Regions from separate parts of the Homo sapiens genome. Here regions 2, 3 and 4 are each linked to region 1. Evidence: fine-mapped expression QTL. A gene starts in region 1. Each other region holds a variant in brackets. All regions are shown on one strand. Distances are from middle to middle.

What was found.
Region 2: its variant is fine-mapped to the expression of EHMT1 in whole blood (TOPMed, PIP above 0.99).
Region 3: its variant is fine-mapped to the expression of EHMT1 in whole blood (TOPMed, PIP above 0.99).
Region 4: its variant is fine-mapped to the expression of EHMT1 in whole blood (TOPMed, PIP above 0.99).

What each region holds. Positions count from the first base shown.
Region 1 is chr9:137,614,787-137,622,886 of GRCh38, reverse strand. EHMT1 (euchromatic histone lysine methyltransferase 1) reads right to left here and starts at 3,882. Exons shown (of 27, transcript NM_024757.5): 1 at 3,838-3,882. The coding sequence starts at 3,858. ARRDC1 (arrestin domain containing 1) reads right to left here. Exons shown (of 8, transcript NM_152285.4): 7 at 7,887-8,100; 8 at 7,527-7,813. The coding sequence ends at 7,749. It overlaps ARRDC1-AS1 (ARRDC1 antisense RNA 1), which reads left to right and starts at 3,992. Exons shown (of 3, transcript NR_122035.1): 1 at 3,992-4,356; 2 at 4,696-4,953; 3 at 6,688-7,555. RefSeq lists enhancers at 2,756-3,474, 4,140-4,189 and a silencer at 3,800-4,099.
Region 2 is chr9:137,801,169-137,809,258 of GRCh38, reverse strand. All of the region lies in intron 18 of EHMT1 (euchromatic histone lysine methyltransferase 1), which reads right to left. Among named protein-coding and RNA genes, the nearest start is that of MIR602, 33 kb to the left of the region's middle. RefSeq lists an enhancer at 109-188. The variant G/A (reference allele first, on the strand shown) is at 4,855.
Region 3 is chr9:137,707,658-137,715,757 of GRCh38, reverse strand. EHMT1 (euchromatic histone lysine methyltransferase 1) reads right to left here. Exons shown (of 27, transcript NM_024757.5): 2 at 4,728-4,791. Among named protein-coding and RNA genes, the nearest start is that of EHMT1, 93 kb to the right of the region's middle. RefSeq lists a silencer at 80-139 and an enhancer at 6,300-7,261. The variant T/C (reference allele first, on the strand shown) is at 3,074.
Region 4 is chr9:137,644,721-137,652,820 of GRCh38, reverse strand. All of the region lies in intron 1 of EHMT1 (euchromatic histone lysine methyltransferase 1), which reads right to left. Among named protein-coding and RNA genes, the nearest start is that of EHMT1, 30 kb to the right of the region's middle. RefSeq lists an enhancer at 5,448-5,517. The variant G/A (reference allele first, on the strand shown) is at 4,895.

The DNA of each region.
Region 1 (8,100 bases):
CACCCAGGCTGCAGGGCAGTGGCACAATCACAGCTCACTGCAGCCTTGGCCTCCTGGGATCAAGCGATCCTCCCACCTCAGCCCCTCAAGTAGCTGGGACTACAGGCACATACCACCACCACACCCAGCTAACTTTTTTACTTCTAGTAGAGACAAGGTCTCACTCTGTTGCCCAGGCTAGTCTCAAACTCCTGGGCTCAGGGGATCCTCTCATCTCGGCCTCCCAGGCATGAGCTGCTGGCCCTGGCCAAGAACATACATTCTGATTGGGGCAGGATGAACATAAGAGAACAAAAATCTTCTCTAATCTAAATCTTACACTAATTCACCATTAATGGAAGTCCATAGTCGACCCCTAAAGTTGGTGAATAAAGACATGACAATACAAACATATATTTAGAAACATGAAGTAAATGCTCAAGAGATGCAAGTGGGCTGCTTCTTCTCTAGAAAGACAGAAGATGATCGGCCGGGGGCGGTGGCTCACGCCTGTAATCCTAGCACTTTAGGAGGCCAAGGCAGATAGATCACTTGAGGTCAGGAGTTCGAGACAAGCCTGGCCAACATGGTGAAACCCCCATCTCTACTGAAAACACAAAAATTAGCCAGGTGTGGTGGCAGGCGCCTGTAATCCCAGCTACCAGGAAAGCTGAGGCACAAGAATCACTTGAATCCGGGAGGCGGAGGCTGCAGTGAGCCAAGATCGGGCCACTGCACTCCAGCCTGGGCAATAGATCAAGACTCATTCTCAAAAAGAAAAAAAAGGGGGGAGGGGGGAGGGATAGCATTAGGAGATATACCTAATGCTAAATGACGAGTTAATGGGTGCAGCACACCAACATGGCACATGTATACATATGTAACAAACCTGCACGTTGTGCACATGTACCCTAAAACTTAAAGTATAATAATAATAAAAGAAAAAAATAAAAAGAAAAAAAAAAGAAAGACAGGAGATGAGAACAGCTTTTTTTTTTAAGGGTTTTAGCACTGATTTTTTAAATTATGCGCACGTGCCTGCATTATTTTAAAAAAGAAAAAATAAAGAAGCGATACATAGTAGCCACCCTGCTACTTGCCTGAGAAAGCCTTCCTGCTGGAAGGTGACGTTTTGCTGAGACAAAAGCCTTGAGTCAAAGGAACCCTAGGATCTGATCCTCAGTGACCCTGGACATATTTAAACCCTAAGATGCCCCATTTACTAACTAATCCACAAATGGGGAATGGAGGATATATTCAACTACCTCAGTAGTTTTTTTTCTTTTTTTTTTCCTGAGACAGTCTCTCACTCCGTTGCCCAGGCTGCAATTACAGGCACACACCACTATGCCCAGATAATTTTTGTATTTTCAGTAGAGACAGGGTTTCAACCATGTTGGCCAGACTGGTCTCGAACTCCTGACCTCAAGTGATCCGCCCACCTCGGCTTCCTAAACTGCTAGGATTACAGGCATGAGCCACCACGGCTGGCCAGTTCTTTTTGGTAGGAAAATGTATTGACTATCTTTGTAAATCAAGGAAAAGAAATGAAGTTAGATAAGTTTCCAGTGTCAGCTTTATTACTTTAATCATTTGGCAATTAATGAACCCTGACCCAGGAATCATTTCCCAGGTTTAGTGACAACAGTGATCACATGCCTACCTACTGTCCAGAAGGCCAGAGTTGCTGCGCTACACACAGGGGCTCCCTCACCTTCTCATACACCTTGATGATAAACCCTTAGAATTATCAATCTAAAAACAGAGCTTTTATTAACCTAAAATGACCATCACAGATATAACACATTTAGCAAGCATCAGCTCTATGGCCAAACCACCTGCAACTCCATCTTCTTGGCCACAAGCTCTTCAATCTTGGGCCTCACTGCGCCTGTCTTCTCATTTATAAACGGGGAGGTAACAGTACCTACCTCTTAAGGTTGCTGCTAGGCTCAAATTATTGAATTCATGCAAGGCACTGGCACTATGGCAGGGTTGGACACAAGTCAGGGCTCAGTCAACACAGGCTGTCATTCTCATCAGGTGTGTAAAGCCCTATTCAAGGCTGCCTATGGAACCAGAGACATCTGGAGCCATTTGCTCATCGGTCATGTATTAAACACCTACTACGTGCCCAACACTGTACTAGTGCTGGTCCTACAACCGACTGGCCAAGTTATCTAACCCTTCCTCCTCAGCTAAACAGGAAACAACAGGACGGGCACAATGGCTCATGTCTGTAATCCTAGCACTTAGGGAGGCGGAGGCAGGCAGATCGCTGGAGTCCAAAAGTTCAAGACCAGCCTGGGCAACATGGTGAAACCCCGGTCTCTACCAAAAAAATACAAAAAAATTGGCCAGGTGTGGCAGCACCCGAGGTGGGAGACTCCTTTGAGCCTGGGTGGTCGAAGCTGCAGTGAGCAGTGATCATGCCTCTGCATTCCAGCCTGAGTGACAAAGGGAGATCCTGTCTCAAAAAATAATAATAATAAATAATAATTTAAAAAAGGAAATAACAGCACCTGCTGCACAGGGTGAAGAAAACCGAGGGAGGCGCCTGATCTAAAGGTCTTGCACAGTGTGTGGGATCCAGTGGGTACTTCATAAATGATAGAATTCATCACTACACGTCTTCTCCCCTACAAGCCTAGAAGTGACTTGAAATTTTCTAATTTCGCTTTTTGTTCTCAGTGACTAATATTAATTCCTTGAATGCTGCAGATACTCAGCAAAAACTCCTTGCATTGAATTTAAGAATTCCCCTGCACCTTCCCAGTTTACTTATTTCAACACCCCCCAAAAATGCAGGAAAAAAATAAACAAAAAGGCCATACATTACCTGAGTTAAAATACAGTGTTAAGTCTATGCACCAGGATACTGTACGGCTTCTTACTACACCTTAACTTTCTAAGCTTTAGAAGTCTCAACTGTTACTAGACAGTTAATTTCAAAGAAATACTTCTACGCTGACAGTTTTCTCCAAACCGGTCCCTTATCTCAGCCCTAGGACCACACTATTTCTGCATCTCCACGGACACACCACCTCCTGCTTGCTTTTCCTTCAGAGGGACGCCAGTGGTCCACTCGCAAGACTTTAATCTCTACGCTGCTTCCTTTCCTAAGCAAGGAAACAAACTATCCTTGAGAATGAGCACGGGGAAGGCCGAGACCATTAACAAAAGAATGTGAACTTTTTACATCGAGAGCCCTTTAAAGCTGCTGGTTTGGAAATAAACTTGAGTCCGCAAGCTTCCCACCGAGCGTGCTTTCCTGCTTCTGACAGCCAGCAGGGCTGGAGCAGCATTGTCTGGGGAGAAACACGCCGGGACTGGCCAACTTTTCGTTAAAGATGGTGCCATCCTACTCAGAACAAAGTGAAAGGTCAACGAAGCGAAGGAAGAGCTCCGAGAGGAGGGACAGCCTCGCCTCGGCCGGCGCTCCAAAGTTGGCCGGCCCCGCTACTTTTCCTTTTGTCCTCCGCACCTCCCCGGCACCCTGGCCGAGGCCCTCCCCGCAGATCCGGCTTGCGGGCGGCGGCGGCGGCACGGGGTCCGTGGGGGGCGCGGGCACAGGTACGCGGTCGCCTCCCTCACCTGCGCCCCCGCCCGCTCCCCCAGCCGCCGCCCGGCCCGCGCCGCGCACAAAGCGCGCCCGGCGGGAGCGCGGGCCGGACGCCCGGCGGCCTCGGCCCGGCCTCGGCCTGAGGCGGCGGCAGCGGCGGCGGCGGCGGCGGGGGGACCCGGGGCCCCGCCCGCCCGCCGGCCGCCTGCCGCCGCCCCGCCCGGTTCTTCGCCCCCGCGCCGCCTCCGCCGCTGCCCGCCGCCCCCGCGCCGCCCCCCGCCGGCCCCGCTGCTCACCTCGGCATCGGCGGCGGCCATGGCCCGGGCCCGCAGCGTGGCCCCGCCCCTCCCGCGCGCCATCGCCCCGCCCGCGCCTCGCGGCCCAGAGTCGGGGCGGGGCCGATCGCCTACGTCTGCGCCTGCGCCTGCGCCCGCGCCTGCGCGTTGGAGCTCGACCGGTGCGGCGCCTGCGCACTGGAACCAGGCGTGCGGCGCCCCAGGCGCCGGGCCTGCGGCGGCCGGAACCGGAACGCGCGCCCGCGGGGTAGGAGACCTGGAGCTGGAGAACCCGCCCGCCAGAGTCGTAGTAGTGGATGGGGAGTAGCCGTCCCATTTTCAACACATGTCTCATTCTAAATTGACGTTTTGGTGGGCTGGCCGAAGAAGGAGAAAGACCCGCGGCTCCGACCTCTGACCTCTAACCCCGGACGCACTTTGATTTCGCCGGCTTGCGCGGAAGGCTGACTCCCTGGGCCGCGGCCTGGCGCGGGAGCCGCCTGTGGGGTGTCCCCGGCGCGGGAGGGTGCTCTGGTTCAGGCAGGTTCCCGTTGCGGCGGGGTTCCCTCGGTTGGGAGGAATGCCCCTGCCGAGGGTATGCTCCGGCTGGAGGGGGTGTCCCTAACGGCGGGAATACCTGGACTGGCTGGGGTGTCCCACTGGGGAGGGTTTCCCGGTGGGGAGGTGTCTGGCGGGGGAGCGGCTCCGGCTAAGCATGGGTGTTCTGCTAGGAGGATGTGTCTGGCTGGGGGCGGTGTCCCAATCGGGAGGGTTGCCCTGATGGGGGAGGTTCTACAGTTGTGGAGATGCCAACCTGGGGGGCGCTCCGGTTGGGGGGTGTGCCCTCTCTGGTTACCCCGCTCTCGCTGCCACTCATAGGCCCGCTGCCCAGGTATGCACAAGTCAAGGCCTTTTCTGCAGACCAAGTAGCCTTCCCTGGAGAGCGCCCCCAGCACCACGGAAACTACCTACATGCCCCGCGGTGGTCAGCCCGCCTTATCCCAGCCCCGAGACCCAAAACAAGAAGCATGGACTGAATTTGAGGTTTCTGGATGGTCGTGTGAACCGAGGGGACGGGTACTGGACTGACAAGAAATGAGCCTTGAAGGTCAATCTGGGTGACACCCGAGTCTCCTGGTGAGTCGGACTCCGGAGAATTATCTCAAGTCCAGCATAGACAGCGCACATAGACAGAAAAGGAAACGGACAATCCCAAGTGCCAAGGGAACCTTCCCAGGTTTCTTTAGGGCAGCTAAACTGCTCTGTCAAAGCCTAAGTCCATTTATGACAGGCCGAGCACCCTGAGCCCTCGCAGGAGACACGAGCGCCTTCATGGCCCTCCTGCCCCGCACCCACCTCTCCGCCACCCCTGCTGTCTGTCCCTTCCCTGAAACCTTTATTTCGAGTGTCTTTGTGGCTTCCCTCTTTACCATCCTTGAGTTGAAATATCACCTCTTAAGGGAAGCCTTCCCTCTCCTCCCTAGTTAAAATGATACTGCCCCCCCATACCTGTCTTCGTTGACTTACTTGGCTCCATCACAGTGTGTGTCATGTGACTCTCCCACATCCTGATTTGGAATATTGTCTCCCTACTAGAATGTAAGTCCATGGTGCCTAGAACAATACCTGGTGTACAGGAGACAAAATATTTGTTGACTGGGCCGGGTGCGGTGGCTCACGCCTGTAATCCCAGCACTTTGGGAGGCCGAGGTGGGCAGATCATGAGGTCAGGAGATGGAGACCAGCCTGGCTAACATGGTGAAACCCCATCTCTACTAAAAATACAAAAAATAGCCGGGAGTGGTGCTGGGCGCCTGTAGTCCCAGCTACTCGGGAGGCTGAGGCAGGAGAATGGCATGAACCCGGGAGGCAGAGCTTGCAATGAGCTGAGATTGTGCCACTGCACTCCAGCCTGGGCAACAGAGCAAGACTCTGTCTCAACAACAACAACAAAAAAATTGTTGACTGAATAAAGGGAGTTAGAATGTGAAGAAAAATCCTTCACCAAGCAAACATCCACCCTAAGTGAAGGTGTGGGAAGCAGCTGCAGGCAGCTTTTTCACTCCATTTTTCCATCAGCTGCTACCCTTGTGTGCCCCTCAGCACTTATGTCAAGATGCTGCTCTCAGCACGTGACATGCTAACACTGCAGACTTCAGGTCAGTCCTGAGAGGCAGGCACTGTTCTTACCCACATTTTATAAGTGACTGAACTGAAGCAAGGGAGTGGTGAGAGGCAGTGATGGGATTCAGCCCAGGAGGCCTTCCTTTCAACCATATACTGCACTGCTTCCAGGAGGCGCTTCACAGATGACCCCACCTGTGGTACACTTTCTGCTGTTCTCCAATATTCATGCTGCCTGTCCCACAATTAGTAAAATTTTAGCCAAGTACAGGACTGCCTGGCTAAAGACCACATTTCCAACAGGAAGGGGACAGGTCAGAGACAAAAAGTGACAATCCATTTCCCAGTCTGTCCCTCAAAAGTCCCACCATTAGGCTGGGCAGTGGTGAAAGCTGTCAACAGCCATCTGGGAGCCAGGGATGGGAACCACTATGTAGGAATGACAACTCTGCCACAAGGCCAGGATCTGCCCCCTCTGGACTGTTCAAGAAATAAACTGTCATGCTATGAGGGTGGGGGGCTGTACCCTACAGTCCCACGAGTTTTTTGTGGGGTTTTGTTTTTTTATTTTTTGAGGCAGTCTTGCTCTGTCACCCAGGCCGGAGTACAGTGGCACAATCTCAGATCACTGTAACCTCTGCCACCTGGGTTCAAGCGATTCTCCTGCCTCAGCCTCCTGAGTAATTGGGATTACAAGCATGTGCCATGATGCCCAGCTATTTTTTTTTTTTTTTTTTTTTTGTACAGATGGAGTTTCACTATGTTGCCCAGGCTGATCTGGAACTCCTGACCTCAAGCAATCCACCTGCCTCAGCCTCCCAAAGTACTGGGATTACAGGAGGGAGCCACCGTGCCCGGCCTGGTCCTGTGCATTTTATAGATAAGGTAACTGACAAACCTAGCCACAGTCACCCCTTCGCCCTAAAGGAGAACTGGAATTTGAACCCAGAGCCTTCTTCACCACCATCTCCGTTGTTTCTGGAAGCACCCTCCAGGCAGGCCAGCCAGCATCACGGGGCCTCCCCTGGGGCTGGAACGTCTGCAGGATGCCCCTTTGAGAAATGCTGTTCCACAGAACCCTGCCTTTCAGGCCTTGGAGACGTGGGCAGGGGAGAAGCAGCGTCCCTCAGAGCCAGGCCTGGCAGTGGTGCTAGCAGGGGCCAAGGCCCAGGGAGCAGGGTCTCCTGTCGGAGGGACCTGGGCAAGCCCCTCCACGCGCCAGCGGGTTTCTCAGCAGGGGAGGTCCACACCACACCGCTTGGGAACCTGGGTGCCTAAACGCAACAGGAGCCAAGGCACAAATTTAACCAAACACCAAGGTTGCGTGAGGCCCCATTTCATGAGCCGGGCTCCAAGGACGTGTCCTTAGGCGGCTCTGGAAGGCCCAGCGCCAGCCCCCGTCCTCTGTTAAAGGGAGCCAGCCCCGCGGCTCCGCCCAGGCATGGTAGCCTGAGCGCGCCCCCAGGGTAGTAGGGGGCACCTGAGGAGCAGGGTCTGCCCTGGCATGAGCAGAGCCCAGGATGGGGTCAGGGTCAGGCCCTGCCAGAGGCTGGAGGGTGCCCAAGGCGAGGCCGGTGAGGCCCAGCTCTACAAATAAAGTGTTTTATTTACAGGAGTTGTCTCTCCAGGTCCCAGCTCCCTGCCACCCCCACCCCAGCCCCAGGGAGAAGAGGGCGGATGCCAGAGGAGCTGGCAGAGGCTGGGCAGGTCCTGAGTGGGCCAGGCTAGGCCAAGAGAGAAGGCACGAGGCCCTGGGCGCCCCAGTCCCAGGGCAGAGGCCAGGCCTGCCTGGAGAAGGCAGCACGGGGTCAGCTCTCAGGGGTCAGGCTGGGTTCCACGCCGCCGCAGCTCTGCTCATAAGACGGTGGGGCCTCTGCGGGAAGAAAGCAGGGTCTGCGTGGGGCTCTTGGCGTCCCCTCCCTGCCAAGCCCTGGCTGTCGACTCACCATAGGGGTAGCCCCAAGAACTGTACTCTGGAGGAAGAATCAAGGTGCTGGTAGTGGGCACTGGCCCCCCGGAGCCCTCTGCAAAGTAGGGGACAGTGGCACCTGTTGAAATGCACAAGGGAGGGTGCAGCGGGTGTGAGGCAGGGCTGCCATCCTGAGGGCAGGGCTCCGGCGCACCAGGCACAGAACTCAAGGTGGCCAGCAGGGGCTGCCG
Region 2 (8,090 bases), 190 kb before region 1:
GGCGAAGAAAAAAGCAGAACAGAAACCGAGTGGCCTGGTCTCCAGCATCTTCATCCACAAACGGCCAGCCCCCGGCATGGGCTTCACTGTTCCCTTGACTTCTAAAAGAGAAAACTAAAAGCGAACTCCGTGTGTAGGCCTCAGTGGATTTCCTGAAGAGCCTCTGCTGCTCTTGGGCTCCTCCACCCCTCTGCTCTTTGTTTCTGGCTTCCCTCCTCCATACATTTCAGAGCTCCTTGAACAAAAGGCTGCTTGCTTAGGGGCCTCTTTTCTTTTTCCTTTATCAGAATGATTTATGATTTTATAACCAGAATTACATTTTTTATTTTTTTTTAGAGGCGGAGTCTCACTCCGTCACCCAGGCTGGAATGCAGTTGGCACGATCTTGGTTCACTGCAACCTCTGCCTCTGGGGTTCAAGCGATTCTCGTGCCTTAGCCTCCCCAGTAGCTGGGATAACAGGCTCATGCTACCAGGCCCAGCTCATCATTTTGTATTTTTAGTAGAGTCGGGGTTTCACCATGTTGCCCAGGCTGGTCTCAAACTCCTGACCTCAAGTGATCTGCCACCACGCGCCCCCCCCACCCCCCGCCCAGAATTACATTTTTGAGAGCTTCCAGTTCACATAAGATCCTTCCACTCTGGGACTGTTCAAACGCCCAGCCTTTCTGAAGTTGGCTGAGTTACGACAAGCCTGGCCTACAACTGGTGAGCAACCGCACTCCTGAAACAATGGGGTGATACAGACCAGAACAGGTTTACCTTCCCACCTAAAAGAACCAGAAGAGTAAAACAAAACAGTCAAAACCTATGACCATGGTTGTCAAGACACCAGACACCAGGCAGGGAAGGACCGTGCCCCTGAGAGGCGAGTCTGTGAGGGAGCCCGTGGCTGCCCAGCTCACTGCCACCAGAGCTCCAACCATGGCGCAGGGGGTAGGCAGGCAGGGCCCCCGGATGCTCAGACAGAAAACAGAGCTCCAAGAGAGGTTCCAGAGATCTGTGCACTTCCGGCAGGAAGTGGGTCATCCGGCAGGACACTAGCGGCCACAAGCCTGTTGAGAATGTGCACTCAAAGCCGGGGCCTTTCCCCACAACCAGGCAGGCCACACTCTCCATCTACAGGCTGTGGGCTGGAGGACAATGGACGGACCTGCCTCGGTGGCTCCAGACCCACCTAACAAACCTGAAAAGCAAAATCCAACATGATCTGACTGCTTTCAAGTGACTGAGTTCCAGAACAAAGTTCAAGAACATTCACACGAAGAAGAGTCCTTAGCACCATACAAGTTTTGCAAAACCCACCCACATCCTGGCATCGGCTACAGGTTACCAGATGTGCAAAGGAACAGGAAACATGACCCACAATGGGGAGAAAAACCCAGTCAATCAAAAAGCCCGGCTTTGACACAGATGCTGGATTAGCAAACAAGGTCATTAAAGCCATTGGTGGGCTGGGTGAGGTGGCTCACACTTGTAATCCCAGCACTTTGGGAGACCTTGGCGGGGGAATCACTTGAGGTCAGGAGTTCGAGACCAGCCTGGGCAACGTGGTGAAACCCCGCCTCTACTAAAAATACAAAACTTAGCCAGGCGTGGTCGTGCGCGCCTGTAATTCCAGTTACTCGGGAGGCTGAGGCAGGAGAATGGCTTGAACCTGGGAGGCGGAGGTTACAATGGGCCAAGATTGCACCACTGCACTCCAGCCTGGGCAAAAGAGTGAAACTCTGCCTTAAAATAAACAAATAAATAAATAAATAAATAAATAAATAAATAAATAAGTAAATAAAGCCATTGGTATAACTGTATTCTATAGGTTCGAAAGTTAAGTAGAAACATGTTAGGAAATGTTTGAAAGACTCCAACAGAACTTTTAGAGCTGAAAACGACAATGCCTAGAATGTAAGCACACAGACCGGATGAGCTCAACAGCATCACGTGCAGAAGAAAAGATGAGTGGACTAGAAGACAAACCAACAAAAACCTGCTCAACTGAAACACAGAGGGAAAAAATAATAATTTAAAAATTGAAAAGAGCACCAGTGAGCTGTGGAACCACTCTGAGAACTCCTACATACACAGCTGGAATACTGGAAAGCGTGGTGGGCAGAAAACATTATTTGAAGAAATAATGACTGAAAAATTTCCAAATTTGTCAAAAACCCTAAATCCACAGATCCAAGAAGCTCAATGAACCCTACGTGCACACACACAAAATAACACCAAAGCACTTCAGTAATCAAATTGCTTTACAGACAAACTAAGGCTTAGAGGAAAATCCAATTGCTAAAACCAAGAGATACAGAAAAAACATTTTAAAAGCAGCCATATAAAAAAGACACATTATACACAGAGAAATAACTGTGTGGTGGCACTGGATTTCTCACTGCAAACACTGCAGGTGAGGACCCAGGGAAACCGCCATTTAAAGCATTGGAAGAAATAACTACGCATCCAGAATTCTAAGAATATCTTTCAAAGATGAAAGCAAAATAAGGACTTTCCAGGCATTAAAGAGCTGTAAGAGGGCTGGGCACAGGGGCTTACGCCTGTAATCCCAGCACTTTGGGAGTCCGAGGCGGGCGGATCATGAGGTCAGGAGTTTGAGACCAGCCTGGCCAACATGGTGAAACCCATCTCTACTAAAAACACAAAAATTTCCCGGGCGTGGTGGCCAGCGCCTATAATCCCAGGTACTCAGGAGGCTGAGGCAGGAGAATCGCCTGAAACCTGGAAGAAGGCGGTTGCAGTGAGCCAAGATAGCACCACTGCACTCCAGCCTGGGTGAAAGAGCAAAACTCCATTTCAAAAAAAAAAAGCTGCAAGAGCTCATCACAAGCAGACCAACACCACAGAAAAGGTAAAGGGAGTGAGGCCAGCGGAAGGGAAGCAACATCAGGAGCATGAGCCCACCAAGGTGGAGAAGCGTGGCAGGGACAGGGATGGGGATGGCAGGAGCAACTGCAGAGCTCTTCTGCAGTCTTTCAAACAGACCACTCGGCTGGGCGTGGTGGCTCATTTCTGCAATCCCAGCACTGTGGGAGGCCAAAGCGGGCAGATCACCTGAGGTTGGGAGTTTGAAACCAGCCTAGCCAACATGGTGAAACCCCCATCCCTAATAAAAATACAAAAATTAGCCAGGCGTGGTGCCATGTGCCTGTAATCCCAGCTACTTGGGAGGCTGAGGCAGGAGAATCGCTTGAACCAGGGAGGTGGAGGTTGCAGTGAGCTATCGCACCACTGCACTCCAGCCTGGGTGACAGGGTGAGACTGTCTCCAAAAAAAAAAAGAAAAAACCAGGCCGGGCACAGTCGCTCACACCTGTAATCCCAGCACTATGGGAGGCCAAGGTGAGTGGATCACGAGGTCAGGAGTTTGAGACCAGCCTGACCAAGATGGTGAAACCCCGTCTCTACTAAAAATACAAAAATTAGCCAGGCGTGGTGGCTCGTGCCTGTAATCCCAGCTACTCAGGAGGCTGAGGCATGAGAATAGCTCGAACCCGGGAGGCGGAGGTTACAGTGAGCCAAGATCATGCCACTGCATTCCAGCCTGGGCGACGGAGCAAGACTCCATCTTAAAAAAAAAAAAAAAGACCACTGACTGTTTAAACAGAATAACTACATGGCTATTATGGTGTTCAGAACATATATATGTGTAAAATATAGGAGAATAGCAGTATCAAGTTTGGGAGGAGAAAAATGATTTTGCAAGACCTACTGTAAAGCTACATCAGTCAAGAAAGGACAGTACTTGCCTAAAGGCAGATATGCAGATCAATGCATCAAAAGAGAGGGCCCTGGAGCTGACACACACATCTGGACGACTGACTTTACACACATGTGGACAACTGACTCTGACATGTGGACGACTGGCTCACACATGCGGATGACTGATACATACGCAGACAACTGACATGGATGACCAACTCATACATGTGGACGACAGACTCACAGACATGCAGATGACTGACTCATACATGCAGATGACTGACCCTTACATGTAGACAACTGACACACATGTGGACTGACACATGGACGACTGACAGACATGCAGATGACTCACACGTGGACGACTCACACGTGGACGAATGACACATGCAGATGATGGACTCACACATGCGGATGAGAGACACACACATGCAGATGACTGACTCACACATGCAGACTCTCACATGTGGACGACTGACAGACATGTGGACTGACACATGTGGACGACTGACAGACATGCAGATGACTGACTCACACATGGACAACTGACACATGTGGACACACATGCAGATGACTGACACACATGGACGGACTCATACATGGATGACTGACAGACATGCAAATGACTGACACATGTGGAATAACACATGGGTAACTGACTCACAAATGCAGACAACTGGCTTTTGGCAATGGTACAGAGTCAATTCTATGTAGAAAGAATGGTTTTCTCAACAAATGGCACTGAACTAGGCATCCATAAGCCAAAAAAAAAAAGTTCAATCCATACCTCACACCACATACAAAAGTCAACTATAATAAAACACAGACCTAAATGTAAACCCCCAAACCATAAAACTCGTATAAGAAAATGTGGGAGAATATCTTTGGGTTCTCAGATTAGGCAGTGATTTCTTAAACAGAACGCCAAAAACAGGATCCAGTTAAAAATAAAGAAAAACGTTGATAAACCAAACTTTATAAAAACTTTTAAAATTCTGCACTTCCAAAGACAGATCTGTAAACCATATATCTGATAAAGGACTTATATCCAGAACATGAACTCTTAAAACTCCAGAATACCCAATAATAAGCAAGAAAAATATTTGAACAGACACTTCATTAAAAAAGATATATGGATCGTAAAT[G/A]AGCCCATAAAAAGATGCTTAACATCAACTGTCATTAGAGAAATGAAATGAACTGAAAACTAAAACCACAAGATATCACTACACACCTATTAAAATGGATAAAAGTTAAAGACTGACCATGCTAAGTGTTGGGAAGGATGCGGAGGAACCAGGACTGTCTGATATGGGTTGGCTCTGTGTCCCCACCCAAATCTTGTCTTGAATTGTAATCCCCATGTGTCAAGGGAGGGACCTGATTGGATTATGGGGGTGGGTCTCCCATGCTGTTCTCATGTGAGTGAGTTCTCACAAGAGCTGGTTTTAAAGTGTGGTACAATGCTCCTCAATCTCTCCTGCCACCATGTAAGACGTGCTTTGCTTCTCCTTCACCTTCTGCCATGATTGTTAAGTTTCCCGAGGACCCCCCAGCCACGCTGAAGGGTGAGTCAATTAAACCTCTTTTGTTTATAAATTACAGTCTTAGGTAGAACCCTGATAGCAGTGTGAGAACGGATGAATGCACTCTCATACACTAGAGATGGTACAATCACTTGGAAAGCAGTTTGGCAGGTTTTTTTTTTTTTTTTTAATTTTTGAGACAGGCTGGGGTGCAGTGGTGCGATCTCAGCTTACTGCAGCCTTGACCTCCTGGGCTCAAGCGATCTTCCCACCTTAGCCTCCCGAGTACCTGGGACCACAGGTGTGTGTCACCATGCCTGGCTACTGGCAGTCTCTGAAAATGTTAAGCCTAGACACCTGTCATATGTTCTAACCATTCTACTCCCAGGGGTTTAATCAAGAAAAATGAAGGCATGAGTATTCACAGCATCTCTCTTAGTAACCACCAAAAATCAGAAACAACCTAATGTCCACTGATAGGTGAAGGGTAAACAGACACATTCACACAATGGGCACTTCAGGCAACGAAAATGGGGATCTCGGCTTAAGGACGCGAGGGAAAGCTGCCCATGGTGAGAGCCCTTTTCTATAAAACCGAGACACGCAGACAACAGAAAGCCCAGCAATGGGTGGCAGGGGTGGGCTGGGCATGGCTGTGAAGCGCGGAGGATCACCTGAAGATCATCAGGGCATGAGGGAGGACTGGGCTCACTCTTCCGACAGCAACAATGGCTTCTGGGTGAAAATTCACCCAAGTGTGTACTTTGAATATATGCAGCCTACCTATTATACAGCAATAAAGTGGTTAAATTAATGAAGTGTTTCATTGTATAAATAACAAACTTGAAATTTAATCAATGCTTCCATTCTGGGGGAACAGCCACCAGCATCAGAGAGCTAACAGCTCTGACACCTGGACAGGCTGCAAACTGCCCAGGCATGCAGGCCGACCAGCCACACTAGGGCCGCCTTCCCCGCCACGCAGTCTCCGGGGGCGGTGGGTGAGGTGGCCCCACCTGGGGGTGGCCTCTGCCTTGTTCTCTGCCTTTGCTTCCCTCCTCTCTTCCTCCAAGGTACCCGCCACAGCCTTCCACCAGCTCAGGGCTCCTCTGCTTCCCTCTTCTCTTCCTTCTGCCGGCTCAGGGCTCCTCTCTTCATGGTGCCGTCATCCTAACCCGCAGTGGGAAAGAACTCCGGTGGAATGAGGTAGAAACCCCCTGGATACAGTCATGGAAGCCCTGCAGCCCACGGAGGAGGCACTGCAGCTCAGGACCAGTCACTCCAGAGAGGCCTGCGTGCCTGCAGGGAGGCAGCGGGTGCCCACAGCCAGTGGTCCCTGTTTCTAGGTGGGAGGTGGGGTCTGCTTACATGCAGCGAGGGGTTCCAAATGCAGACCTCCCCGTGCCAACAATGAATGGCAAGGGCCCGTGCCCACGCCGTTCTCAAGCTCTGAGAGGAAGTGTCAGCCCTCCCTCCTCAGACACCAGACTTCAGCACATTGGAGATTTAATAGTGTGCTTTTAGAAATCTTCTTTTTCTGTGTCAAATCTTCTTTCTTATTATCAATTTAGTGGGTTTATTTGTGGCTGGACTTCCCATTTCTGGCCTCTGGAACCCTCTGTGAAGGCAGACACAGCTCTGTGGGCTACAGCACCTCCCATTTCTGGCCTCTGGAACCCTCTGTGAAGGTGGACACACCTCTGAGGGCTGCAGCACCTCCCATTTCTGGCTTCTGAACCCTCTGTGACGGTGGACACAGCTCTGTGGGCTGCAGTGTGTCTATGCCCGTCTTGGGAGGTGACCAGAGTACCCCCTCGCCCCTTGCTGTCGTGCCCAGTGCCACACCCAGCCCCCTGGCAGGCCCACTGGTTTTGTGGGTCCCTGAAGATCTTCTAGTGAACACCCTTTTGAGTTAATCAGTCACCTGCTGCCACTCTCAGGCTGGGGAGTCCTCCTATCTCAGCTCCAAACTCTATTTTCTGAGCAAACAAATGGGCCTTACAAAACTAATTGTCACTGAAGCATCTTAAATCACATCCTAGAAAACCGTGGTATGATAATGTTCACTTTTCTTTCCTTTGTTTCAAAGAGAGAGCCAGGGGCCAGGCGTGGTGGCTCATGCCTGTAATCCTTTGGGAGGATGAGGTGGGCAGATCACCTGAGGTCAGGAGTTCAAGACCAGCCTGGCCAACATGGCTAAACCCTGTCTCTACTAAAACTACAAAAATTGGCCGGGCGCAGTGGCTCACACCTGTAATCCCAGCTCTATGGAAGGCTGAGGCGGGCAGATCACCTGAGGTCGGGGTTCAAGACCAGTCTGGCCAACACGGTAAAACCCCGTCTCTACTAAAAATACAAAAATTAGCCAGGTGTGGTCGTGGGCGCCTATAATCCCAACTACTCCAGAGGCTGAGGCAGGAGAATCACTTAAACCCGGGAGGTGGAGGTTGCAGTGAGCTGAGATCACACCACTGCACTCCAGCCTGGGTGACAGAGCGAGACTCTGTCTCAGAAACAAACAAATAAAAAATACAAAAATTAGCCAGACACGGTGGCACACACCTGTAATCCCAGCTACTGGGGAGGCGGAGGCATGAGAATCACTTGAACCCAGGAGGCAGAGGTTGCAGTGAGCCAAGATTACGCCACTGCACTCTAGCCTGGGCGACAGAGCGAGACTCCATCCATAAAAGAAACAAAAACAAAAACAAAGGGAGAGCCAGAGGTGCTGTGGCACCCGCACCAGGGTCAGTAGCCTCAGGCCCAGGCACAGCCCCGTGAGGCAGCAGGAGGGAGACCAGGGCAGTGCAGCGCCCTCTGAACCCGCAGATCCCTAGAGGGTGGCCTCTGCTGGGACC
Region 3 (8,100 bases), 93 kb before region 1:
AGCACATCCGTGGTCTGCTCTCCACTCCCTACAGAGGCTCACTCTCCGATGACAACCCCAGGAAATCATATCCAGGGCAGTCAAGGAGACACTATTTTACATCACGAGATTGACACACACACTCAGCTCAGGACAGGCTGAGGCAGGAAGCCTGCGATGGCATCGCTAGGTGCACACGGAGCTCAGTCAAGCCTGAGATGCCACCGCCCAGTGCCCTCCTTCCTGGCTCTGTTCTTCCTGGTGCTTATCACCTCGAGCACAACAGACCTGATCATCTGTCATGCTGGCCGTCTGTCCTTCCACCCGAGGACGTTAAGTCCTATGAGCGCAAATGCCCTGTCTGTTTACCAGTGTACCCTGAGCACATGAACGAGGCCTGGCATCTAATGTGTGTGTTCTGAATAAACAACTATGTTTTAAAAACCCTTAACAAAACAGAGTAAGTGGAAACTTCCTCATACCAAATCCTGCAGCAGATGTATATGTAAATGCTAAATTAATTGCATATAAGATCTATTAACACTACCAGTGTCTGACATAAAAAGGCAGTGCAGGTGACACCAAAGGGAAAGAACAATGTGAGGGTCAAACTGTTCCCACCTGCATCTGACACAATCATTTACTTAAAAACAGACTCAATTAGCAACTAAAACACAAGAGTACAACCAGACTGCTGAATTTGAAATCATGTTACAAAATCAAAGACATTTATTTATATCAACATTACCTAGAAAATGTAAGAAAAAAAAGTATCATTCACAGAAGTAGGGAAAACTACAAAGGGTATTAGGAAATTTGCCAAGATTACTCAAAGCCAATGTGTTGAAAAAAAAGTTAAATAGAAGGCATTTCATGCTCCTAAATGGATGACATTACAAAGCTGTCAAGTCCCCTCAAATTGAATCTATAAGCTGGGTGTGGTGGCTCATGCCTGTAATCCCAGCACTTTGGGAGGCCAAGGAGGCATGATCGCTTGAACCCAGGAGTTCACGACCCACCTGGGCAACATAGTGAGACTCTGTACCAAAAATTAAAAAATTAGCCGGGCATGGAGGTGCACACTTGTAGTCCCAGATACTCAGGAGGCTGTGGCAGGAGGGTCGCTTGAGCCCAGGAGGTCAAGGCTTCAGTGAGCTATGATTGCACCACTGCACTCCAGCCTGGGTGACAGGTCTCATTAAAAAAAAAAAAAAAAAAAAAAATGAGCAAACTGAATCCAGCTCCGCACCCCCCAACAACAAAACAAAATTGGTGAGGAGGATTAAACCATGAACAAGTGGAATTTAACCCCAGAAATGCAAGGTTGGCTTAATAGCTAAAAATGAATTAATATGCCAAATATCAATAGAACAAAATAAAGGACAAAACCACACAAGCATCTCATTAGACAGGAAAAAATGAACACCCCTTCATGGTCAAAACACTTAGCAAATGGTTTGCTAAGAAAAGAAAACTTCCTCAATCTAACATAGGGCATCTATGAAAAACTACAGCTAACATCACACTTAAAGGTGAAACCCGGGAAGCTCTCTCCCTAAGATCAGAAACCAGACAAGGATGTCCAGTCTTGCCACTTCTATTCAACCCTGTACTAGAGATTCGAAGTAGGGCCATAAGGAAGAAACAGAAATAAAAAGAATGCAGATTGGAATGGAAGAAACCAAATGAGCCCTAAAGATGACACAAGCTTTTATGCAGAAATTCCCAAGGAAGTTTAAATCATTAGAACTAATAAACGAGTTTAGCAAGGTTATAGGATATAAGATAAATATGCAAAAATCAATTTTTTTTAACTTTTTTTATTTTTTGAGATGGAGTCTCGCTGTGTCACCCAGGCTGGAGTGCAATGGCATGATCTCTGCCCACTGCAAGCTCTGCCTCCCGGGTTCAAGTGATTCTCCTGCCTCAGCCTCATGAGTAGCTGGGATTATAGGTGCGAGCCACCACATCCCGCTAATTTTTGTATTTTTAGTAGAGATGGGGTTTCACCACGTTGGCCAGGCTGCTCTTGAACTCCTGACCTCAAGTGATCTGCCCACCTTGGCCTCCCAAAGTGCTGGGATTACAGGCATGAGCCAGTGTGCCCAGCCAATCACTTGTATTTCTATACAGTATCAATGATCAAAATGAAAAAGAATTTTTAAAACAATTCTATTTAAAATAGCATCAAAAAATATAATACTTAGGGGCCAGGCACAGTGGTTCACGCCTGTAATCCCAGCACTTTGGGAGGCCAAGGCGGGTGGATCATGAGGTCAGGAGATGGAGACCATCCTGGCTAAGATGGTGAAACCCCGTCTCTACTAAAAATACAAAAAAAATTAGCCGGGCATGGTGGCAGGTGCCTGTATTCCCAGCTACTCGTGAGGCTGAGGCAGAAGAATGGCGTGAACCCGGGAAGCGGAGCTTGCAGTGAGCCGAGATCGTGCCACTGCACTCCAGCCCGGGTGACAGAGCAAGACTCCATCTCAAAAAAAAAAAAAAAAAAAAAAAATTAGCATGGTGTGGTGGCTCACACCTGTGGTCCCAGCTACTTGGGAGGCTGAGGTGGTAGGATTGCCTGAGCCCAGGGAGATGGAGGCTAGAGTAAGCCATGATCACACTCCAGCCTGGATTACAGAGGGAGACCCTGTCTAAAGAAAAGAAAATCTTACAATAAACCCTCACATTTAAAGCCAACTGATTTTCAACGAGGGTGCAAGAACAATTCAATGAGGGAAGAAAGGTCTTTTTCATAAATGTTGCTGGGACAACTGATTATCAACTTGCAAAATAATAAACTGGGACCCCTACTTCAAACCATATACAAAAATTAACTCAAAATTGATCGAAAACCTAAATAAAAGAGATAAAACTATAAAACTCCAAGAAAAAATAAATGTAAATGTTTGTGACCTTCTATTAAGTAATGGTAAGTTCTTAGGTTTTAGACCAAAAGCACCAGCAACTAAAAGGAGGAAAAAAACAGGTAAGTCGGACTTCATCAAAATTGAAAACATTTATACTTCAAAGGACACCATCAAGAAAGGGGAAAGACAAGCCACAGACCGGAAGAAAATATTTGCAAATCCCA[T/C]GGCTGATAAGGGACTTCTGCTTATATAAAGAACACTGAAAACTCAACAATAAAAATCAATCCAATTTGAAATCACAGGAGAAGAGATATTTCTCCAAAGAAGCTCTAAAGATGGCCAGTAAGCACACGAAATGATGCTCAACATCACTGGCCGTCAGGAAAATGCAAACCAAAACCACAATGAGATGCCACTTCCCACCCGCCAGGACAGCCACAGACACTAAGAAATGGTGGCGAGGACGTGGAGAACCTGGAGCCCTCTGCAACTGCTGCAGGGAAAGCAAGATGGGGCAGCCACCGTGGGGGTCCAGCAGTTCCCCCAGGGTGGAGAGGCCGTGGCTCAGCGGCAGTGTGTAAGGGAACAGGGCACAGGCAAAGCCTAAAGCGTAATGGAATAACCTGGGGCTTGTGGCATCTGGTGTCACGTAGGAAACAAGTTCCACTAGGAAGGTCAAAGGAGGGGTGACCAGGGAGAGAAGGGGGAAGAGCCGGAGGGCACTGGAGCCAACAGAAGAAACAGTTCAAAGACACAGAAAGGACGGCAACAGGAAGGGGCCAAAGTACAGGAAGAAAACACCCAGTCAGGCTGCAGGAGGTGGATGGCGCAGGAGGTGGGGGCAACCCTGGAGGGCCGGCTAGGGGTAGCGGCAGAGGCGGGCAGCGGTCACCACAGTGCACAGCCAGTGGGTGGACGAGAACCCACAGGCACAGCGAGGCCATCTAGGGTGAAAGGAGAACACGGCAGGGGCCACAGCCCACAGTCCATGAGGAGCCAGGCCTTGCGCGCTGTCTGGAGAGGAGCAGGCTCCAGCTGGGAGAGCCTTAGGCAAGTCCAGTGTCTGAGCTGCTCCCACGGCCGCCACCCTTATGGGTCCAGCCAGAACACCACTCTCCCTTCACTGTGGAGCACAGCACAGCTCGTCTGGCGCCACCTGCCCTCATTTCCTGGGGGCGCTCTTGGTGGTGCAGGCTCTCCAAGAACATCCGAACCCTATGTGTGCGCCACGCCTTACAGAGGGGTGCAGCCCCGCCGACTCCCCTCGCCCCAACTCCCCTCACCCTGCCTCTCTGCAGACACTTGCTTCCACACCACTCCCTCCACCTCCTGGTAACCACTGCTGTTCTCCAAGTGTCTGCCATAAAATTGGAGTCATGCAGCTTGTGGCCCTTTGGGTCTGGCCTCCTTCACTTAACAAACCGTACAAAAGCTTCATCCATGGCGCGGCGTCAGTCATGCTGTGTGCTCTTCTGGGCTGCTGACCGCTGTCCCACTGTGTGGATGTACCACGATCTGTTTATCCAGTTCCTTATCAACTGAGGACACCGGAGTGTCTCCGGTTTTCGGCGACGTGACAATGCTGCTATAAACATTTGTGTGGCCACTCACTTTTAATTTTCTGGGTGTACTTTAAGACAAGGATATACAGGATTTTTGCTTTTCATACTTTGACAAATGTGTTCCTTCTCTGGCAGAGCTTTTGTGTTTGTCTGTGCAACTGTGCTATTTAGGAATGGGATAGATTAGAAACTATACCATAAACCTAGGTGAAGCAAAGAAAGTCAGAAGACGGGGACTAATAAGAGAGGAAGAGCAGCAGGTTTTCTAGTCTGGAGGGAGGCGCTGCTCCTGTCCCTCGGTGCACACCGCCCTCACCTTCTCCCAGCAGCTCGGTTTTCACACAGCAATCCTGCTGAGGCTCCCCCCTCGCCGGAACTGCCTGTTAGAGAGAAACAACAGCCGTCAGCCGGGTTCAGTGGGAGGCCGCTTTTCCAAATGGACATCATTTGGAAAAAGTCAAAAAATCGTAGTTACAACATTCACCATGAGCTGCTGGACAGTCAGATTTACTCCTGCCAGCTGGTTACAGTCGCCTCCAGCAGAAGAACTGGCATTCAGAACACAGTCCAAGGAAACTTCTCCTGTATTTCTATTTTTGAAGACAGTTTCTTAACAATAAGAACGCATTCATGTATCATTTATATAATTAGATATCTGAAATCTTTGGGCTCTGTTACAGGAGTGTTACAATTTATTTCAAAATGCATTCTACTGCTGACAATAATTCATATATTTCAAATGTCCAACCTCCTACAAAAAATTATAGAAATAGATAAATCAAGAAAATTCAATAAGGAACTTAAATCACTAAATCTTTGAGATTAAGCATCTATAGAGGTATGTATTATACAAGGCCTCTTACAATTTTTTTGTTGAGACAGAGTTCACTCTCTCGCCCAGGCTGGAGTACAGTGGCGCGATCTCGGCTCACTGCAACCTCTGCTTCCACAGTTCAAGCGATTCTCAGGCCTCACCCACCTGAGTAGCTGGGACTACAGGTGCACACCACCACACCCAGATGCTTTTTGTGTTTTCAGTAGAGATGGGGGTTTCGCCATGTTGGCCAGGCTGGTCTCAAACTCCTGGCCTCAAGTGATCCGCCCGCCTCAGCCTCCCAAAGTGCTGGGATTAGAGGTGTGAGCCACTGCACTTGGGTGGCACTTGGACAGAATTTTTTTTTTTTTTTTTACACAAAAATCCTTGCCTTCAAGAAGCTTAGAGTCTGGTTGGAGAAGTGAACATAAACACATAAAACACTCCTAGCCAGGCCTCTCCCGACGCAGCAGCAGGACCATGGAGTCCATAAGGAGGCAGCAGGGAGTCTGCAAATGCCCCACCCACAGCTGGGGGCCGGGGAAGAGGGCTGCTGACCACTCTGGGCAGTTGGAGATGCCAGACTGCAAGTGGGAGCTGTCAGGCTGACACCCACACCTGGTGATGTGATACTGGAGAAAGCCCTCTGGTGAGGCCACTGGAAGCTGGAAGTGGGCAGGAAGCCTCCGGGTCAGAGTGATAAAATAGGAACAACTGAGGGAGGCACACTTGGTGCTCCGAGTCCACAACCAGAAGAGGAGAGGCACAGACTTGCCCGAGGTCACTAGGAGCAGCCAGTCAGACAGCTGCAGGAGGCCAGCCACGCACTGATTCCATCTTTAATTGACTATCAACAGGTAAGAAGAGGCTGCAAAAACCCGGGTGTCCAGCGTCTGGATGAGAAAACATGTCAACAATGGGGCCTCTCAACAGAACCCCTCCTCCCCACAAAGCAGACGCCAGGCCAGCCCCTACCTGAGCCCGGATGTGCCTACTGCTTTCCAGGGCTCACATCCATATGGTCTCGCTGCCTTCTGGGCTGACTTGGTAACACCGGACCTAACTGCATCACCCTCCCCAGGAGCTGGTCTTAGCAACTGTGCACAGCCCACCCCACCACGGTAAGGCAGGGGGGCCCAGGTTTCCACCTCCCACCCCCTGATCTCCCACTGCCAAGCCAGGGCCAGCAGCCCAGCTGCTCATGGCCAGCCCTCGAACATGCAGAGCACGCTACCTTTCCTGGTCCATCACAGCTGTACGCCAGCCAGCTCAGCCTGCACCCTTCACACCTACCCCCCAACAGGAGCTCTCCGGGGTCCCTGCAATCCTTCCAGGAGTCCAGGAGGTCAAAACTATTTTCATGGTAATACTAGGACCTCAATTGCCTTTTTCACTGTGCTGATATTTGCACAGACGGTGCCCAAGCGGTGGTGTCAGCCCCTTTGCATCGACCAGGTCAGGACACCGAAGTGTACTCCAGCAACTGAACTCTTGACCAGCAGGCACTTGGGGGGCTCGCCTGAGAGTGCCCTGGATGAGGCAGTGAGATGATGGCCTGTGAGCACAGCTCTCCAGCGTTCCACATCAGAGGAAGGGGGCAGGCAGCAGGCCAGGCACAGTGGCTGCGTGGAACCCGAAGCTTTCCTCACTCACAGAGCATCTTCACTTAAAAGAACAACTGGCAAAATGTATGCCACTCAGACCTGAACATACCACTCAGGCCTGGACATGCCACTCAGACCTGGACATGCCACTCAGGCCTGGACATGCCACTCAGTCAGACCTGGACATCTGGCAGACATTTCCACAGAACAGAGTGAGCCTCAAAGAAAACAACCAGTAGTATTTGTTGCCAATGTTAAAACTCTACCTTTTGAATTTTCGAAACACATGTAAATGTGTATCTGTCCCCATGAGCTTGAAAGTTTCTCCATATTTATGACTTTTCTTATTACATGAGCGGTATCATTAGTGACTATGATTTTTGATACCATATAATAAAATGTGTCAACATGGGGAAGATCTTCCTAACAAGGTGAGCTGACACTCCCCAAATGCCCAGTGCCTAATATTCAAAATCACGCATGGGACAAAGATGCATCCAAGATGGGCTTTAATGTCACAGAGGAAGAAGGTCATTGGCACAGTTTCACCTTGTTGAGTTTTCGTGTCATATCAAAGCAGAATAGCTGCAATTATCTGAAAAGATATCAAAATACTTCCCCCTTGCCAACCACATGTCTATGGGAGACCAGATTTTCTTCAGACAGTATCACCTCAGGCTGGGTGCAGAAGCCAATCTGCAAATCCAGCTGACTCTTCGATTAGCCAGACATGACAGAGATGGACCAACATGGAAAACAATGCCATTCAACTGAGTTTTTTTCATTCAGAAAAAGTACTTTTCACAGAAACTGCTGTATTCCCTAACATGTAAATAAAATGTTACATGTTTACTTTTATTATTTTTTAAAAATGTGATTTTTAACTTTTCAGTTTTCATTTCTTTTACAGTAACTATCATTAGATACAACCCAATAAACAAGAGCCCTCTGGGGTCCTCAATACTTTTAAGAGCAGGGCCTTGAGGCACACCAAAGACACCCTGCCTGCCACGGCACAGCTCTGCCGACAAGGTCTCCTGGCCTGAGATGAGCCGGGGTGGAGCATGGCAGGGCAGACCTTGTGAGGCTGCCGGGGTCTACAGGCATTTTTGGGCACCAGCTGTGCCCCTCACATGCTGTCCCCTCCTGGAGGCACCCGCCAAACCCCACTCCATCTCACAGTCCTCATCACCACCACCAGCCACAAATCCTACCCACGAAATTAAGTTTTGTAATCTTTTGAAAAAATGTTTAAGAATGCTATGTAACAC
Region 4 (8,100 bases), 30 kb before region 1:
CTGGGAGGCGGAGGTTGCGGTGAGCCGAGATTGCACCACTGCACTCCAGCCTGGGCAACAACAGCAAAACTCCATCTCAAAAAAAAAAAAAAAGTTTAACTTCTTACACTTTTTTGTTAAAAACTAAGATACACTAGCCAGGCGCGGTGGCTCACGCCTGTAATCCCAACACTCTGGGAGGCCAAGGTGAGTGGATCACCTGAGGTCAGGAGTTCAAGACCAGCCTAGCTAACATGGCAAAACCCCACCTCTACTAAAAATAAAAAAACTAGCTGGGCGTGGTGGTGCACACCTGTAATCCCAGCTACTCAGGAGCTGAGGCAGGAGAATTGCTCCAACCAAGGAGGCAGAGGTTGCAGTGAGCCAAGATCGCACCACTGCACTCCAGCCTGGGAGACAGAGTGAGACTCCGTCTCAAAAAAAATAAAACTAAGACACACTGGCCGGGCATTGTGGCTCACGCCTGTAATCCCAGCACTTTGGGAGGCCAAGGCAGGAGGATGACTTCAGCCTGGCTTGGGCAACATAGCAAGACCTCATCTCTACAAAAAAAAAAATTAACTAAAACACAAACACACACATTAGCCAAGGCCCACACAGAGTCAGGATCATCCGTATCACCGTCTCCCACCTCCACATCTTGTCCCCTAGAAGATCTTCAGAGGCACTAACATGCATGGAGCCGTCATCTCCTATGGTAACAGTGTCTTCTAGACTCCTCCTGAAGGGCCTGCCTGAGACTGTTTTACAGTTAACTTTTTTTTAAATAAGTAGGAGTACACTCTACAATAATGGTAAAAAAGTATAGTACAGAATAGTAACTACATACACCAGTAACATAGGAGTTTATTATCATTATCAAGCATTAGGTACTGCACATAACTGTATGTGCTAGACTTTTAGACAACTGATAGCAGAGTAGGTTTGTTTACCTGAGCAGGACACATAATGCCTATTGCTAGAGCTTTAGCATGTCCTGGGCAATAGGAACTTTTCGGCTCCACTACAATCTTTTTTTTTCTTTTCTTGAGACGGCGTCTCGCTGTCACTCAGGCTGGAGTGCAGTGACACAATCTCGGCTCACTGCAACTTCCACTTCCCAGGTTCAAGCATTTCTCCTGCCTCAGCCTCCCAAGTAGCTGGGATTATAAGTGTGTGCCAACAGGCCCAGCTAATTTTTTGTATTTTTATTTTTGGTAGAGTCAGAGTTTCACCATGTTAGCCAGGCTGGTCTTGAATTCCTGACCTCAAGTGATCCGCCTGCCTCGGCCTCCCTCCCACAGCGATGGGATTACAAGCGTGAGCCACCGCACCTGGCCAGCTCCATTATAATCTTACTGGACCATCATCTTATATGTTGTCCATCACTGACAGAGACATCATTATGTGGCCTGTGACTATAATTCAAAATAGATCAAAGATCTAATTAAAAGAGCTAAAACTGTAAAACTCATAGAAGAAAACAGGCACAAATCTTCATAATCTTGAATTTCAAAAGTGTTTCTAAAATAGGACACAAAAGGCACAAGCAACAAAGAACAAAGGGATAAATTAGACTTTATCAAAATTAAAAATGTTTGTGCTTCAAAGGATACTATCAAGAAAGTGAAAACACAACCCACAAAATGGGAAAAAATATTTACAAGTCCTACATCTGCCTGGGTGCAGTGGCTCACACCTGTAATCCCGGCACTTTGGGAGGGTTCCAGTTTTTCCATATCATCGTCAACACTGGTGGTTTTGTTTTGTTTTGTTTGAGATAGGGTCTCACTCTGTCACCTACCCAGGCTGGAGTGCAGTGGTGCAATCACAGCTCACCGCAGCCTCGAACTCCCAGGCTCGTGATCCTCCCACCTCAGCCTCCTGAGTAGCTGGAACCACGGGTGTGCACATATTCATATTCATATGGCAGCGGGAAGATTGCTTGAGCCCAGGAGTTCAACCAGCCTGATCAACACAGTCTGCACAAAAAATTAAAAAACAAAAATTAGCCAGGTGTGGTGACATGTGCCTGTGGCCCTGGCTACTTGGGGGGCTGAATTGGGAGGATCACTTGGGTCCAGGAGGTCAAGGTTGCAGTGAGTTGTGATCACCCCACTGCACTCCAACATAGGCAACAGAGTGCAACTGTCTCAAAAAAAAAAAAAAAAAAAAGCGGGGGGTCCTATATCTGATAAGGGACTTCCCTCTATAATATATAAAGAACATCTGTAACTCATTAATAAAAAGACAACCCAATTTAAAATGGGCAAAGGATATAAACAGGCATTTCTACAAAGAAGACATACAAATGGCCAATAAGAACATGAAAAGACGTTCAACATCATTAGTCATCAGCAACATGCAAATCAAAACCACAATGAGATACTACTTCACACTCCCTAGTTTGGCTATAATTTTAAAAATGAACAACAGCTGGGCAAGGTACACCTGTAATTACACATCTGTAATCCCAGCACTTTGGGAGGCCAAGGTGAGCAGATCGCTTGAGCCCAGGAGTTTGAGAATAGCCTGGGCAACATGGTGAAACCCCATTCTAAAAAAAATGTTTAAATTAGCTGGCATTGTGGCCCACACCTGTGTAGTTCTAACTATTAAGGAGGCTAAGGCGGGAGGATCACTTGAGCCTGGGAGTTTGAGGCTGCAGTGAGCTGTGACTGCACCACTGCACTCCAGCCTGGGTGACAGGGTGAGACCCTGTCTCAAAAAAAAATAAATAAATAAAATAACAAGTGTTGGCGACGATATAAAAACTGGAACCCTCATTCACTGCTGGCAGGAATGTTAGATGGCACAGCCACCATAAAAACACAGTTCCTCAAAGGTTGTCCCACAATGAGACCACTGTAGCTTGACATGCAATTGTAAGAAGTAACACAGAGACTCCGTGTACACTTTGCCCAGAGCATTAATCTCCTGCAGTTACCTTAACAAAGTATCATAAATTGGTTAACTTAAAACAACCTAAATTTATTTTTATCTTTTCGCAGTTCTGGAGGCCAGAAGTGTGAAATCCGGCTGCTGGCAGGGCGTGGTCCCTCTGAAGGCTCCAGGAAAAGAGCACTTCCTTGCCTCTTCCAGCTCCGGTGGTGTAGGCCATCTTCTCACTCCCTGGTTCGCAACACTTGGCTCCCACCTCTGCCTCCGCTGCTGTGGCTTCTTCCCTGAGTCTGTGTCCTCTTATGGACACCAGTCACTAAATCTAGGGCCCACCCTAAATCTACGACGACTTCATCTCAAGATCCTTAATTAATTACATCTGCAAAGATCCTACGTCCAAATTAGGCCCCATTCTCAAGTCATGGGTGGATCTGAATTTGGGAGGACATTTTTGTTTGTTTGTTTGTTTGTTTGTTTGTTTGAGTCGGAGTCTCGCTCTGTTGCCCAGGCTGGAGTGCAATGGCGCGATCTCAGCTCACTGCCACCTCCGCCTCCCAGGTTCAAGCAATTCTCCTGCCTCGGCCTCCGCAGTATCTGGGATTACAGGCACCCGTCACCACATCCGACTAATTTTTATATTTTTAGTAAAGACAGGGTTTCCCCATGTTGACCAGGCTGGTCTCTTTGGCCAGGCTGGTCTCAAACTCCTGACCTCATGATCCACCCGCCTTGGCCTCACAAAGTGCTGGGATTACAGGCATGAGCCACTGCACCCAGCCGGGAGAACACTATTTCTGAAGTCACGGGTGGATCTGAATTTGGGAGAACACTATTTCTGAAGTCACAGGGGAATGTGAATTTGGGAAGACACTACTCAACCCACTGATGCCCAGTTTCCCCAGTGATGAAGCTCAAGCACGATACGACAACCAGGATCAGTCTCTGGCTTTTTGGGTGGCAAATGGATAAGATGGTACAGCTCATAAGCAGAAAAACTAGGAAGACCAGCTAAAGGGTGACTACTATAATCCAAGCAGGGCACTGTGGTGGCTTGGGCCCAACAGTGATGCCATGATAGGGAGAGAAGTCAGGGAAACGGGATGCACCCTGAGGATGAGGCTGATGGGATCTTCTGATGAACCAGCTGAATTTGAGAGGGGAAGGCAGGACTAAGAATGATTCCTTGTTGGCATTTTTACAGACATAAAGGATAAGTTTTTGCATTAACTTGGGAGAACTAACATGTTTATGATGTCCAAGAACAACAAATGTATTTCCAGAGTTCAAGTCTTCTGTTCCAAGTGCTCGAATGCCCTGGCTAGAGTGCAGTGTTGTGATCACAGTTCACTGCAACCTCAACCTCTTGATGACACTCCCGCCTCAGCCTCCCAAGTAGCTGGGACCACAGGCATGAGGCACCATGCCCAACTATTTTTTTTTTTTTTTTTTGGAGAGAAGGAGTCTCTCTATGTTGCCCAGGCTGGTCTGAAACTTCTGGGCCCAAGCAGTCCTCCCACCTCAGCCTCCCAAAGTACTGGGATTACAGGCGTGAACCACCACAACCCAGCTGGCTACTGACTTAATGTATCAATTTTATATCCAGTTCCTTTACTGAATTTCACTGTCTGTGTTTTAACATTGACTCTTTTGGGTTTTCCAGGTATAGTTCATTTCATCTAGGTGTTCAGATTTAATTGCTGAAGATTATACAATATGGTCTCTTACGATTTTGCTGTCCCAAACAGAATATTGCTTGAAGGGCTCTCACTGGCCATATTGGAATAATTTGAGTTTCAAAAGGACAAATGGTGAAAATAGATTTTAACACATTTAATAAGTACAAATTCATTACCTCAGGAGCCATTCTATAGTAATGCCAAAAAAATATGAAAGGGGAAAGAAAGCTCTTCCTTGAGAAAAGTGTCAACAAACAAATGGGGAAGGAAGGGCAGAGTGGTTTCCCAGCATACAGTCAATGCAAAGAGTACGAATGCTCTGAAGAAAAAGAAAGCAG[G/A]AGAGAGCGAGAGCAAGTGTCCACAGATGCGGCCGGGCGCGGTGGCTCACGTCTGTAATCCCAACACCTTGGGAGGCCGAGGCGGGTGGATTGCCTGAGCTCAGGAGTTCGAGACCAGCCTGGGCAACACGGTGAAACCCCGTCTCTACTAAAAATACAAAAAAATTAGCTGGGCATGGTGGCGCACGCGTGTAATGCCAGCTACTCGGAAGGCTGAGACAGGAGAATCACTGGAACCTGGGAGGCGGAGGTTTCAGTAAGCCAAGATTGCACCACTGCACTCCAGCCTGGGTGACAAAGCAAGACTCCATCTCAAAAAAAAAAAAAAAAAAGGCAAGAGCAGAGCCCAGAAGGCACAGGAAGTCTGCGTGCAGAGCAGCAACGCCTGGCAAAGACTGCTGCCCCTGAGCAGAGAGCACAGGGGCCACCAAAAAGCAGGGAGAAGAAGCTGGGACCCCATTACAGCCATGGAGTGCAGAAGCTGTGTCATAAAGGTAGAGCCGACAGCGTCTCCTGGGAAATGCCATTCTACAGATGGTGTCTAGCGCTGCGGGGCGAGAGGCAGACCAAGAGAGCTGCGTTTCATGCTGGGCAGAAGGTGCCTATCAGTTTTCCATGCAGTCAACATGGAGTCAACCTGGAGCCACAGCAAAGAGGTCAGCCTGGGGCACGAGCCTGGGGTCAACAGAGGACTGGATAGCTCAGGGAATAAGGACACACACAACACGAGGACCAGCCTGGGACTTCGGGCACGTCAATATTTAGAAGTCAGGCTTAAGAGGCGGGTCCTCCAAACAGGACTGGGAAGAAGGAGGCGGCAGGAAACCAGAAGAGTGCAGTGTTCTAGAAGCCAAACGGAGACAACTAATCCCAGGTTTTTTTTGCTTGAATTATGATAACAAATGCTGGTGAAAGAACCAGTAAGACGAAGGCTGAGAACTAACCAATGACAATGTCTAGGTCAATGGTGACCATAACCAAAAGGGCATCTGAGGAGTAGTGGAGACCAAAGCCTGCTGCAGCGGGCTCAGCCACGTGGGGACTGGAAACAGCACAGGCAGAAGGAAACCTGAGGGACTGGAATTTAAGGTACAGAAAGGTAAGGAAGAAGCTGAACATGAATAGCCGTGTTTTCAAAGACAGTAGGAGATAATGTTAAAGCTGAAAATCAGTTAAGACATCCAACGTTACAAGATTTGCGGCAGTGAGGGGATCAAACCCAGCCTCCAATTCGGCCAGAGCTCATGACAACACACGTGCCTTGCGAGATGTGAAAACAACAGAACTGCGCCACACCTCCCCCAGGCCACCCCAGCCCACATGCACGTGGGCCTCCCCCAGACCACCCCAGACCACCCCAGCCCACACGCTCGGGGGCCTCCCCCAGGCTCCAGGGTTGGGCAGCCAAGGCTGCTTTCCACCTGCTGACTAGCTCCTCTCTCCCACAAAACGGGAGCACTCCTCGGGGCTCCCATTCAGCCCTCTTACTTTCCAGCCCATTGTCCAGAGAATGAGTCCCTCGTCCTCTCCCCGTGGTCACAGGATTCTTGCCCGCAGCACAAACTTGAAATGTTCCTCAGGCCAGGTACCACTGTCCCACAGAAAGACAGGAAATGCCACAGACATCATTTTAAATTTCTAGCATCTACATTTAAAAAGTAAAAATAGGCCAGGCACAGTGGCTCACACCTATAATCCCAACACTTTGGGAGGCCGAGGCAGGCGGATCACCTGAGGCCAGGAGATCAAGACCAGCCTGGCCAACATGGAGAAATCCCATCCCTATTTAAAATACAAAAAGTTAGCTGGGTGTGGTGGTGGGCACCTGTCATCCCAGCTACGCGGGAGGCTGAGGCAGGAGAACTGCTTGAATCCGGGAGACAGAGGCTGCAGTGAGCTGAGATCACACCATTGCACTCCAGCCTGGGCAACAGAGCAAGACTCTGTCTCAAAAAAAAAAGTAAAAATAGAAGTAACTAATTTTAATAAATTGCCTTTAACTCAGTATAGATCCAAAACATTATCAACATGTAACCAATATAAAATAATTAGTACCAAAAGAGTGTGAACTATCGTACTAAGCCTCTGAAATCTAGTGTGCATTTCACATAGCACATCTCAGTTCGATATGGCCATGTTTCAAGGGTCTGAGGCCCACGTGGGGCTGCAGCCACGTTTCTGGAGATCACAGCCACCTCTCCACTCAGCGCTGCAAGTACAAAAGCCAACCCTTCTCTAAGATTCCATTTGGAATCGAGTGAAAAAGACACTTGTGTATCAGTCTGCAGCAGAGATGGAAACACAGACAGCCTTCCTTTAACCACCTACAGGAGGCCCCTCTTCGCTGCTTCTATCACACCCTGTTTATCTCTTTTAATAGCAATTACCAAAGTGTGTAATTGTTTGTCTTTCTCAAAACTAGGACACAAGGGCTTCTGTAAGTACAAGGCAGACGCCATGTGCATTCTCATGTGGCTCCCAGTGCAGAAGCTGGCACACGAAGGCAGTAAGTACTTGTTACAAAAATCAACAAATTAAGGAACACATGAATGGATAAATGGTTCCTGTCTACACTGAGAAGTCAGTTAATTCCAAAAATATTCACCCTGGGCCACAAAAACATATGTAAATCAATAAAGGCGCAAGCCAATTCCGGCCCTTTCTCCTTTTGTATCAGGTTACACAACAATCTATCAAGGCCCTGAAGTGTGCCAGGCAACATTCAGTGGGTTGGGGAACTAATACAGCTAAATAAGCAGGCCGTGGCGGCTCACGCCTGTAATCCCAGCACTTCGGGAGGCCGAGGCAGGCGGATCATTTGAGGCCAGGAGCTCGAGAGCAGCCTGGCCAACATGGCGAAACCCCGTCTCTACTAAAAATACAAAAATTAGCCGGGCGTGGTGACACACACCTGTAATCCCAGCTTCTTGGGAGGCTGAGGCAGGAGGATCACTTGAACCTGGGAGGTGGAGACTGCAGTGAGCTGAGATCGCACCACTGCACTCCAGCCTGGGCAACAGAGGGAGACTGTCTCTTAAAAAAAATAATAATAAATAAATAAATAAATAGAGCCCTAACCTCAAAGAGTTTACAATCTAGCAATTGAGACAACCAAAAGACCAATAATTAAAACACAAAATAAATGTTACATCAAAAGACAAGGTGCTTTGGAAACAATGACTAGATCTCAATCAGGGGCCAGCAAA